Regions from separate parts of the Homo sapiens genome. Here region 2 is linked to region 1. A link means that fine-mapping ties the variant in region 1 to the expression of a gene that starts in the linked region. Tissue or cell type: blood mononuclear cells. Region 1 holds a variant in brackets; the other region holds the start of a gene. All regions are shown on one strand. Distances are between the middles of the regions. Region 1 overlaps ARHGAP6 (Rho GTPase activating protein 6). Region 2 holds the start of ARHGAP6 (Rho GTPase activating protein 6).

Region 1 (5,381 bases):
CCCCTTCCTGTGTCCATGTGTTCTTATTGTTCAATTCCCACCTATGAGTGAGAACATGCGGTGTTTGGTTTTTTGTCCTTGCGATAGTTTGCTCAGAATGATGGTTTCCAGCTTCATCCATGTCCCTACAAAGGACATGAACTCATTGTTTTTTATGGCTGCATAGTATTTCATGGTGTATATGTGCCACATTTTCTTAATCCAGTCTATCATTGTTGGACATTTGGGTTGGTTCCAAGTCTTTGCTATTGTGAATAGTGCTGCAATAAACATACGTGTGCATGTGTCTTTATAACAGCATGATTTATAATCCTTTGGGTATATACCCAGTAATGCAATGGCTGGGTCAAATGGTATTTCAAGTTCTAGATCCCTGAGGAATCAACACACTGACTTCCACAATGGTTGAACTAGTTTACAGTCCCACCAACAGTGTAAAAGTGTTCCTATTTCTCCACAGCCTCTCCAGCACCTGTTGTTTCCTGACTTTTTAATGATCACCGTTCTAACTGGTGTGAGATGGTATCTCATTGTGGTTTTGATTTGCATTTCTCTGATGGCCAGTGATGATGAGCATTTTTTCATGTGTCTTTTGGCTGCATAAATGTCTTCTTTTGAGAAGTGTCTGTTCATATCCTTCACCCACTTGTTGATGGGGTTGTTTGTTTTTTTCTTGTAAATTTGTTTGTGTTCATTGTAGATTCTGGATATTAGCCCTTTGTCAGATGAGTAGATTGCAAAAATTTTCTCCCGTTTTGTAGGTTGCCTGTTCACTCTGATGGTATTTTCTCTTGCTGTGCAGAAGCTCTTTAGTTTAATTAGATCCCATTTGTCAATTTTGGCTTTTGTTGCCATTGCTTTTGGTGTTTTAGACATGAAGTCCTTGCCCATGCCTATGTCCTGAATGGTAATGCCTAGGTTTTCTTCTAGGGTTTTTATGGTTTTAGGTCTAACGTTTAAGTCTTTAACCCATCTTGAATTGATTTTTGTATAAGGTGTAAGGAAAGGATCCAGTTTCAGCTTTCTACATATAAAATTTTCTCAACTAAACTCAGAAAAGGAAGTGGGGAAATATGTTTGGGTGGCTTGTAAACTATCAATTATTTTACATATTTGAAACCATCTTTAAATAGAAATCCAGTGTACCATTGGTCTTCACACTGAAAACAATTCACTCAGCCACAAAATAAAAGCTAGCAACACGGAGATAAGAATGTCTTATTTAGGTCACAAAATGCCTACAGATTCTTTTTCTGTTTTCATCTCTACTGATCAGTGATTCTCAACTGGGGGCAGTTTTGCACCCTTAGGGGACATTTGGCAATATTTCAGACATTTTTTATTGTCATGATTGGCAGCTTGTTATTGGAATCTACCGGGGATCGACCAGGGACACTGCTAAACACTCTACAACGCATGACAAATCCCTTAAAGTAAAGAATTATCCAGTCCAAAATATCAATGTGCTGAGGCAGAAAGATCCTGCTCTAGATAGTAAGGTTAACATTTCTGCAAATAATAACTAATACTCTCTATAATAACTCTCTATTGATACTCTCTACTAATAACTGCCTTTCAACCGAAACACAAATAAGTTTAAACATGCACCAATTATATGCTGAATTAAAGAAAAACAAAAAAGCCTCTTACAGAAAATCAAAGCACTAATAAAATTATCCTGTGGGTTTACCACAATGAGAGATCAAGGACTGGAGAATTAAAACATTGGCCAACCAAGTGAAGTTGCTAAAGCAAAAACCAGATATCAAATTATTTTGATTGTTGGAATTGAGTTTACACTCAGACAAATTGAGAGTCCTCTAAATGAAGACTTCTGAGCATGCGTTATCATCAATATTTAGTAAATTATGCTTAAAATATCTGTGTTTGCTAAATTTTACATGTCCTAAATAATACATTTGTAGGGGAAAAAAAGGCTTTTCAAGCTATACAATTATATAAATTTCTTCCAAATCACTTGGTAAATTTGCTCACTTCATGGAAAACAAAACAGAGGTGGGATAGGAAGATATTTTTCAGAATTGCAATGCAAATACAGTGAGAAATAATATCACCCCCAAACATGAGAAAGTCGGTGTGGTTAGAGCTGAAGGAAGACAAGGAAAACTTATCATGCATCCCAGTCTCTGATCTGTGATAACAGTAATGTTAACCACTAGTCTAGTTCTAATGGGAACTAGAAGTCTATTCTAGAGAAAGATTTACAAATTATTAAGAGTATTCATTAAAAGCCACAAAACATGCCTATGTCCTGAATGGTATTGCCTAGCTTTTCTTCTAGGGTTTTTATGGTTTTAGGTCTAACATTTAAGTCTTTAATCCATCTTGAATTAATTTTTGTATAAGGTATAAGGAAGGAAACCAGTTTCAGCTTTCTACATATGGCTAGCCAATTTTCCCAGCACCATTTATTAAATAGGGAATACTTTCCCCATTTCTTGTTTTTGTCAGGTTTGTCAAAGATCAGATGGTTGTAGATGTGTGGTATTATTTCTGAGGGCTCTGTTCTGTTCCATTGGTCTATATCTCTGTTTTGGTACCAGTACCATGCTGTTTTGGTTACTGTAGCCTTGTAGTATAGTTTGAAGTCAGGTAGCATGATGCCTCCAGGTAGGCAATACCATTCAGGACATAGGCATGGGCAAGGACTTCATGTCTAAAACACCAAAAGCAATGGCAACAAAAGCCAAAATTGACAAATGGGATCTAATTAAACTAAAGAGCTTCTGCACAGCAAAAGAAACTACCATCAGAGTGAACAGGCAACCTACAAAATGGGAGAAAATTTTTGCAATCTACTCATCTGACAAAGGGCTAATATCCAGAATCTACAATGAACTCAAACAAATTTACAAGAAAAAAACAAACAACCCCATCAAAAAGTGGGCAAAG[G/T]ATATGAACAGGCACTTCTCAAAAGAAGACATTTATGCAGCCAATACACACATGACAAAATGCTCATCATCACTGGCCATCAGAGAAATGCAAATCAAAACCACAGTGAGATACCATCTCACACCAGTTACAATGGCGATCATTCAAATGTCAGGAAACAACAGGTGCTGGAGAGGCTGTGGAGAAATAGGAACACTTTTACACTGTTGGTGGGACTGTAAACTAGTTCAACCATTGTGGAAGACAGTGTGGTGATTCCTCAGGGATCTAGAACTAGAAATACCATTTGACCCAGACATCGCATTACTGGGTATATACCCAAAGGATTCTAAATCATGCTGCTATGAAGACACATGCACACGTATGTTTATTGTGGCACTATTCACAATAGCAAAGACTTGGAACCAACCCAAATGTCCAACAATGATAGACTGGATTAAGAAAATGTGGCACATATACACCATGAAATACTATGCAGCCATGAAAAACGATGAGTTCATGTCCTTTGTAGGGACATGGATGAAGCCGGAAACCATCATTGTGAGCAAACTATTGCAAGGACAAAAAACCAAACACCACATGTTCTCACTCATAGGTGGGAATTGAACAATGAGAACACATGGACACAGGAAGGGGAACATCACACACCGGGGCCTGTTGTGGGGTGGGCAGAGGAGGGAGGGATAGCATTAGGATATATACCTAATGTAAATAACTAGTTAATGGGGTCAGCACAGAAACATGGCACATGTATACATATGTAACAAACCTGCACGTTGTGCACATGTACCCTAGAACTTAAAGTATGATTAAAAAAAGAAAAGAAAAGAAAAAAAAAAGCCAGAAAACTTTAAAACATAACTGGTACTCTCAAACAAGCAATTTAAATAATTGATGAATCCCATTTCCACGTGCTTGATAGTCATCAGTGATTGAGGGCCTGTGAGTGAGAACAATCAAGTCAGTGGTCTTCAAGTTTTGCTGTACGTTCTCATCAGTTGGAGATTACAAGCTTTCTTTTTCTTTTTTAAAATGATGCCAAGGCAGGCTTCTTCCCAGACCAAATAAATCAGAAGCTCTAGGAGTGAAGCTTGATCTTTGGCACAGTATTGTACAGCACATCTCAAACTTTAACTTTCATGTAGATTGCCTAGGGATCTTCGTAAAATGCAGATTCTAATTGAGTGGGTCTGGGGTGTGCCTGAGATTCTGCATTTTGCAATGTCAACAGTGGTGTTCTAAGGAACACACTTGGAATAGTGAGGTGTCAAAAGCTTCCTGTTTGATTCTAATGTGCAGCCAGCATTGAGAACTGTCTATGACTAAGCTCCTAGTTGTAAGCTGGGTGCTATGTGGGCACAGAAGTAAAATAGAAAAAGAAGCATTCCTCAAATAAGGAATTGTTCCATCCTAAATCACTGTCATGCAATTCACATATCTTTGGCTTATCTTTTGCAAGAAAAAAGGGTCAAATTTTCTAATGGGAAGAAATTCCATTGTAGACCAAAGGAAGCTCAGTTACTCCTCTGGAAGGACAGCCCATTTGATGTTATCTTATATTAATACAGGTAACTTGCCCCAGCCTTAGCTTTTGCGTTTCCTTTTCTGGAAGGCTCTTTCAGCAGAGTTCTGCATGGCTGTTTCCTGTTCATCATTCCAGCCTCCTCCTATGTACCATTCCCAACCCCACCCCATCACTCTCATTTCCTTATCCTGGGTTTTTCACCAGCTGTTTATCACGAGTTAATTAATCAATAACAATAAATGGCCAGTGAGCTCAAAGAAACCCACAACCATTCCCATGCCCTGCTGAAACATGAATGAAGCCTGAATATTGGTTAGTACTATTGGTCTTGGGAGAGAGAAATCCTAAAAGGAAGAAAAATAATGACCTTATTAAAAAATCACACTGGCTAGCATTTTGGAGGAGGCTTTACATTTATAGCTTAATCTCAAATTGATTGTCTCATTTGATGCCTATGAAAAACTCATAGGGTGGGGATTTTCCCCATTCTCAAGGTAGGAAAACTGAGTTTTTGAGATGCCAAAGAGCACAAAATCACAGAAGGAAGAATCAAAGGCAGGCATCTGAATTCAAAGTCTAAGTTCTTTCAACTTCTCCTAGCTGACTTCTTTATTTTTTCAACACACTCTTAAGAATCAACAACCAAGTCCTAAGACTGTACATACATTTGAACTTGATATTAAGTAAATTTAACCCACCAGTATCTAAAATGGGAAATAAGAGATACAAGGCAAGTCACGTTGGTGTGTTTGTCCCAACCCTACACCCTACTTTCTCCATGTGATTTTTAATGGGGGCCCTTTCTATTTACTGAATTACAAGAAGGATATCCTGAAAAAGACACTATCAAATTCAGGAAATAGTCAGTTAGTTTGTATTACTGAGTATTTATAAAGCAGTATTATTTTCTTATTTAAAGAAAATGGAAGTTTTAATTATTATT
Region 2 (5,381 bases), 280 kb after region 1:
AGATTAATCTGATAATGTGTGCTTCTGAAATACAATGAGAATCCAGCCCCTCCTAAAGACCAAGAGAAATTCAACATTTCAATTTTTGATGCTCTTTCTAATCTTGAGTTCCCTGGTTTGGAGGTAACATCTTGCCCTCTGCCTCGACTTTCCTTTCTACTGCCTATCTTTCTCAAGAAAATGGGCAAAAGACCTAGCAAAATTTGTTAGTTTTTTGTAATCTGCACCCCCAACACCTAACAGCCTCAGTTACTTTGACACAGTAACTAACATTAATAATATGTGATGCTAATAATTCTGATAAATGATGCTTATTTTTCTAAGGCGGTTTACTAAAGCCAAAGTCTAACAGTTATCTCACATTAACACAGCTGAGTATGATCTCAGATGCTATTTTCAAACGGTTTTCCTTGGTTGTGTATTTAGCCTAAATCTCCAGCAATTACATGGTATTTCATTTCATTTCTGTAATGCTAACTGTACTTTAAAATATTAAATTACAACTGATGGAATCTCCCTTCCCTTATGGAAACAGATCCAAGGCAAACCTATAGAGTTTGTGGACCGAAGGGGATAGGGGCTGTTCATTTTTAAAACAATTACTATTCTCTGAAAGTGTGTTATTTTCAAAGCGCCCATCAGTGACAGTTTCCCAATAGGTCAATTCACTATTTTTCTTAACTGGACAGCAAATATTTTAAGGGTATCTGATAGCTCCCTCTGAGTCCCCTATGTATTGTTGATTCTTCACTAAACTACTAATTGTTCTAAATGGAATTTAGGCATCAGCATATTTCCATGATCTTTCACACCCCTACACAGAGATTTTCTTCTTCTCCTAGGTTAAACTAATACTCAGTACCATAGATTTCTGAAATTGCCCCTTCAGGGAAAGAAAAGGTGAAAACTAGAGAATTCTTGTCCCCCCTGCCACCCAAACACACACACACACTCACTCATACAGTCAATGACACCCTCCAAAATAATGTTTCTGAATTCTCTACAGAACAAGATGGCAGACATATTTCAAAATATATTTCATCCAATCGTTACAAACAGCTTAGCAATAGATATTTGAGTTGGAAAAAATATCAACATTGGGTGAAGGGATAAGGTGACCCTTTGAAATTGCCTGCAGCACTAACAGAAAACCAGAACACCATCTCTTTCTCCAGCTCCCACGACTGCTCCAAAGTAGAGCCAACAAGTCCTACAAGACGCACAAGCGGGTGGCCACTAGGGACATCCCATTTCCAGGCACCATTTAGCAAGTAGAAGAGGAAAACCCACACCACGGAAACCCCTTAGTGGGTGCCTTGCTCTGTAAATGTAATGGAATTAAAGGCGGTCTCCTGAAACTGCCTGGGGGCCTCCTCCTTGGGCCGTGGGACGCGCAGCGCTGGTCCCTACCTCGGATTTCCACACGACGTAGGGGTGCCCGCGACTGTCGGGTGGGGACTGGAACTTCCTCTGCTGGAGCCACCTCCTAGGAGAAGCGAAGATGCCATTGGGGCCTCCCCCGGATGAACAGAGGATGCTGGAAGCGCTTCGGCTACTGGCTGGCCCGGCCAGGACAGAAGGCAGGTCCCAGGCCATGCTCTTCTTGAGGCCGCCGCGACCCAGGGGAACCTCATAGTCAAAGTGAAAGCTGCCGGATGGTGACTTCTCCTGCGGGGTGCTGGGTGTGGAGAAGGACGAGCAAAGAGGTCCAGGAGGCGGTAGCCTGGTGGCCCTGGGGGGCGGACCCCGGGAAGAGGACGCCAAGCGAGGGCCGAGACTCTCGGCTGGGAGTGATGGGGAGTAGAGGCGGCCCGCCGTGGCTCCCCGCGCACTGCCCTCCGCGCCCGCCTCGTCGCTCCCGCAGCCGCCGATCAGGGCCGGGTCCAGGCTGCGGGTCTGGCGCAGCTTCCTCTTGGAGAAGCCCTTGGCCGAGGCCGCGCTACTTGAAGCGGGCGAGGAACAGGAGAAGACGCTGTGGAGCAGGCTCTGCGCGGACATCTCGGCGGGGCTGCACCTGAGGACCACCTCCTCCTCCCTCCCTGGACGCTGGTGGCTTTGGGTCGGGAACCGAAAGGGACTCAGGCAAAGGTGCCAGGCGGGGCTGGCCCGGGGTTTGCCCAGGGCAGTGGAGAGCAAAGCCCAGCTCACGCGCCGCCGGTGCGCTCCAAGTGCCCCGGCGGCGGCAGGAGCAGCAGATCCATCACCAGCCTTCTAGGAAAATGGGTCTGGGGACCTCCTGCAGCCGCTAGAACCTTCCTCCGGAGCCCAAGACGCGAAGAGGGTCAGGAAGAGGAGGAGGAAGGTCAGGCGCTCGCTGGGTTCCCAGCTCCAGCCTGCCAGCGCCACTCCCCCTTCCTAGCTGAGGCGGGAGACGCAGCGCTCCTGCTCGCTGGCTCTGGATGGCCTCTAAGACTCCAGCAAGCTCCTCCTTGCGGCCCGAGGACAGTCCCGAGGGCCAGGGAGAAGGCTGCCTGGGCGTGCGCCCAGGGCGCGTCCACCGCGCTCCCGGCGCCGCGAGAACTTCCTCCCGCTCCTGAGCCGGGCGCCTGAGCTGCGCCTCCCTGCACTCTCTCCTTGCCCCGGCGCCCGAGGTTGCGCGCCTGGCCTCCGCTGGGCTGCTGCGCCCACTCTTCCGACTGCAGAGGCTCAAGGGTTGTTCCAAGCTCAAGGTTCCCGCGGGGTCTCTGTCTTGCTGCAGTGTGGGGACACCGAGCGTGCTGCGCCCGGGACCTCCAAAGACTGCGTGCCCACGGTGGGATGGAATTCCCGGCGGCGCTCAGCGCTCTCCGTGGAGGAGGGAGCTCAGGAGACAGCCCCAAGGCCGGGTGTGTGTGTTCCGCCGGAGAGGAACACGCTATTCGCAGCCCAGCCTTGGGCCCAGGGCAGACGCGGAGATGACCCCGTACGCTCGCTCTAGAGGCAGCGGGAAGGGGGCGGCCAGGACGTGTAGAGCTGGAGGAATGCCGGGGCTGGAGCTGGGGCGGAGCCAGGAGCAGGAGAAAGCAGAACGTGAAGAGTTTTCCAGGCGCCAAACCTGCAAGCGGCGAGGAGAGAAGGCAGCTCGCCACTGATACCGGGTCTCCTGGGGAGAAAGTCGTGAGGACGGAAGTGCGGACCTTCTCCCCCGTCTCCCCACCCCCAGATCAAGGGTCGCGCCAGCTCCACTCACGTTTCTGGAAAGGAAGGGAAGTGTCAGATTGCACCCCACCCACTGGTGTCAGATGGGCAGCCGGGGACGATTGCTCTGAAGTTGGAGTTAAATCTCCTGCCTTTTCTCCCCGCGCCCCCCCACCCCGCCCTGTCCCGGCTGTTTTTGTTTTTAAAAAGGAAGGATAGATAGGAAACTGTCTAAAAGCAGTGGCTGCCGATGAATGAGCTGGAGATGGAGACCTACTAAGAAAGTGGAGGGGGAGGAGCCTTTGCCGTGGAAGGGGTCCTGAGCACGTGCGGAAACGTGCTCTAGGAGGAGGGGTGAGTGAGGCCGGGTAGGGGGCAGGCGCCGGGCGCAGCTTCAGCCCAGAGGCTGCAGAGATTGGCGCTCACAAAGCGATCTGTCTCCGCGTCCCGCTCTGGGACGCCTCGGGTCTCAGCGCGGTGGCCACAGTCCTGGGAAGCTGGAGAACGCTGGGGAAATCAATCTTCCCGGCAAGGAGATGAGTCTGAAAGCAGCTTCTCCCGCTGTCGGACCCCTGGAATCTATAAAGCGCAAAGCCTCGCCCTCTTGGAGGGCTTTTTGATGTAACAGTTAAGCTTTGCAATGCAACTTACAACCATCTCAGCAGGGAGCAGACAGAATGTTGGAAATGTCTACTTTGTGTTTGTGTCCTCTTTTATCACTTAGGGATGAAGATAATTTTATATAAATGTAAAGGTGACTCTACCATTTCTTTTATTTTGGAGAAAAAATACAATGAAATTATAAATACAGATGTTGGACACGAACATTCCTCTTGCATATCTACCAGAATTGTCCAAGTTTGATTCTGGAAGACTTCCTTTATTCCCTATGACATATTCAGGGGAAAAGTTAATTTACTTAGACTCTTTGAAAAGCGTGTTTGGTGTTCCTAGGTGTTCAGCTATTTTGGAGGAGGTACGTCATGAAATCTAATTAGGAGAATTCGTTGTCTCCACAAAGGGCGTCGGGCTCCCAGGTCTTGGCTGTACTCGTTTTTTGTAAACGCAGCCGAACAGACTGCACCCTTAGAGATTTTTTTTCCGGTAGCTTTAATGAGCTATCTGCTGTCTGAAGACAGAGTTCGATTCTAGTTTCCCATCCCCCATCGCTGTCCATCTCTTCTCACCCTGAGCTTCTTAAGTATTTTCAGCGGCTGTCAATCAGGTGTGCTGCTGACAGGCACAGTGTTTAAAAAGAGCTCTTGCTCCCCTGCCTAACTACACCCAGGCCAAGTTACATTTGGGGGCTTGTTGGCATTGGCTTTCTTCCCTCCTCATACAAGTCACATTAGAAGTAAAAGTGTGTGGGTCTTGTCTGCCCTTTCTTTAGTAACAAAACTGTAATTTATCACTGGTAATGGAAACACTTAATGTCTCTACCACTGGGATACGAATGCATGGTTATGCCTCATTGCATGGTTATGCCTCAGTGGAGTTTGGCATTCGGGGTAGATGGTTAACAGAGTCACTTCACAGAATCACTTATAACTCAAGGGGGGTGAGCAACTTGATGATTGTATTTGATGATTTATATATTTCTCTAACCCCATATGATAACCATGGGGTAGCAAATGAACCCCTGCCATGACTGTATAGGCTAGTATGAATGCCCCCAGGCACAAGGGCATACATTCTTGCTCATGGGTGTTGGAGAGCCAACCAGCAGAGGGATTCTTCTATTAGCACTCCTAGGGCTTGGAACACACACATGCCAGTTAATTCATCATCTAGTTTCCAAGTGTTCCTGACCCTCCAGGAAACTGGAAACTTGTGTCATTGTTGGGAACAGTGAATAAATTGTTTTAAATATTAATCAAATTAGACTGGGGCTCCTTTTAAAAACTCAGTGTAAGTATGTGTGCTTTTAATACCTGGGGCAGGGGATGTTGATGTTCTTCTAGAAAGACTTTGTAAGAATTTTTTTGGATTTTTTTAAAACTATTTTGATTTTCAACCTGACTGCTATTAGGTTTACCTTGCAGTCATAGTGGCTTATGGTGGATTCATTCATTCCTATTTAAGGCATTCTATTTAACTCTTGTTTGTTATATATTCTCTTTGTTTATATAGACTCAACTCACATTGGCCTTTCTGATCAACTGTCAGGTTATGCCAAATTCAGTTAAGGAAGATCTATGGGTTTTGGTTACCAATTTCAAAAAATGGCTGGTTTTGTTACATTGCTTCCCAGAATCCTTCTTACA

Evidence for each region. PIP is the estimated chance that this variant, and not a neighbour inherited with it, causes the effect.
Region 2: ARHGAP6 starts here. The variant in region 1 is fine-mapped to the expression of ARHGAP6 in blood mononuclear cells (TOPMed, PIP above 0.99). The same link has a PIP of 0.9 or more in T cells, monocytes, pancreas and whole blood.

The regions. Positions count from the first base shown.
Region 1 is chrX:11,387,741-11,393,121 of GRCh38, forward strand. All of the region lies in intron 1 of ARHGAP6 (Rho GTPase activating protein 6), which reads right to left. Among named protein-coding and RNA genes, the nearest start is that of MIR548AX, 72 kb to the left of the region's middle. The variant G/T (reference allele first, on the strand shown) is at 2,914.
Region 2 is chrX:11,662,831-11,668,211 of GRCh38, forward strand. ARHGAP6 (Rho GTPase activating protein 6) reads right to left here and starts at 3,090. Exons shown (of 13, transcript NM_013427.3): 1 at 1,411-3,090. The coding sequence starts at 1,998.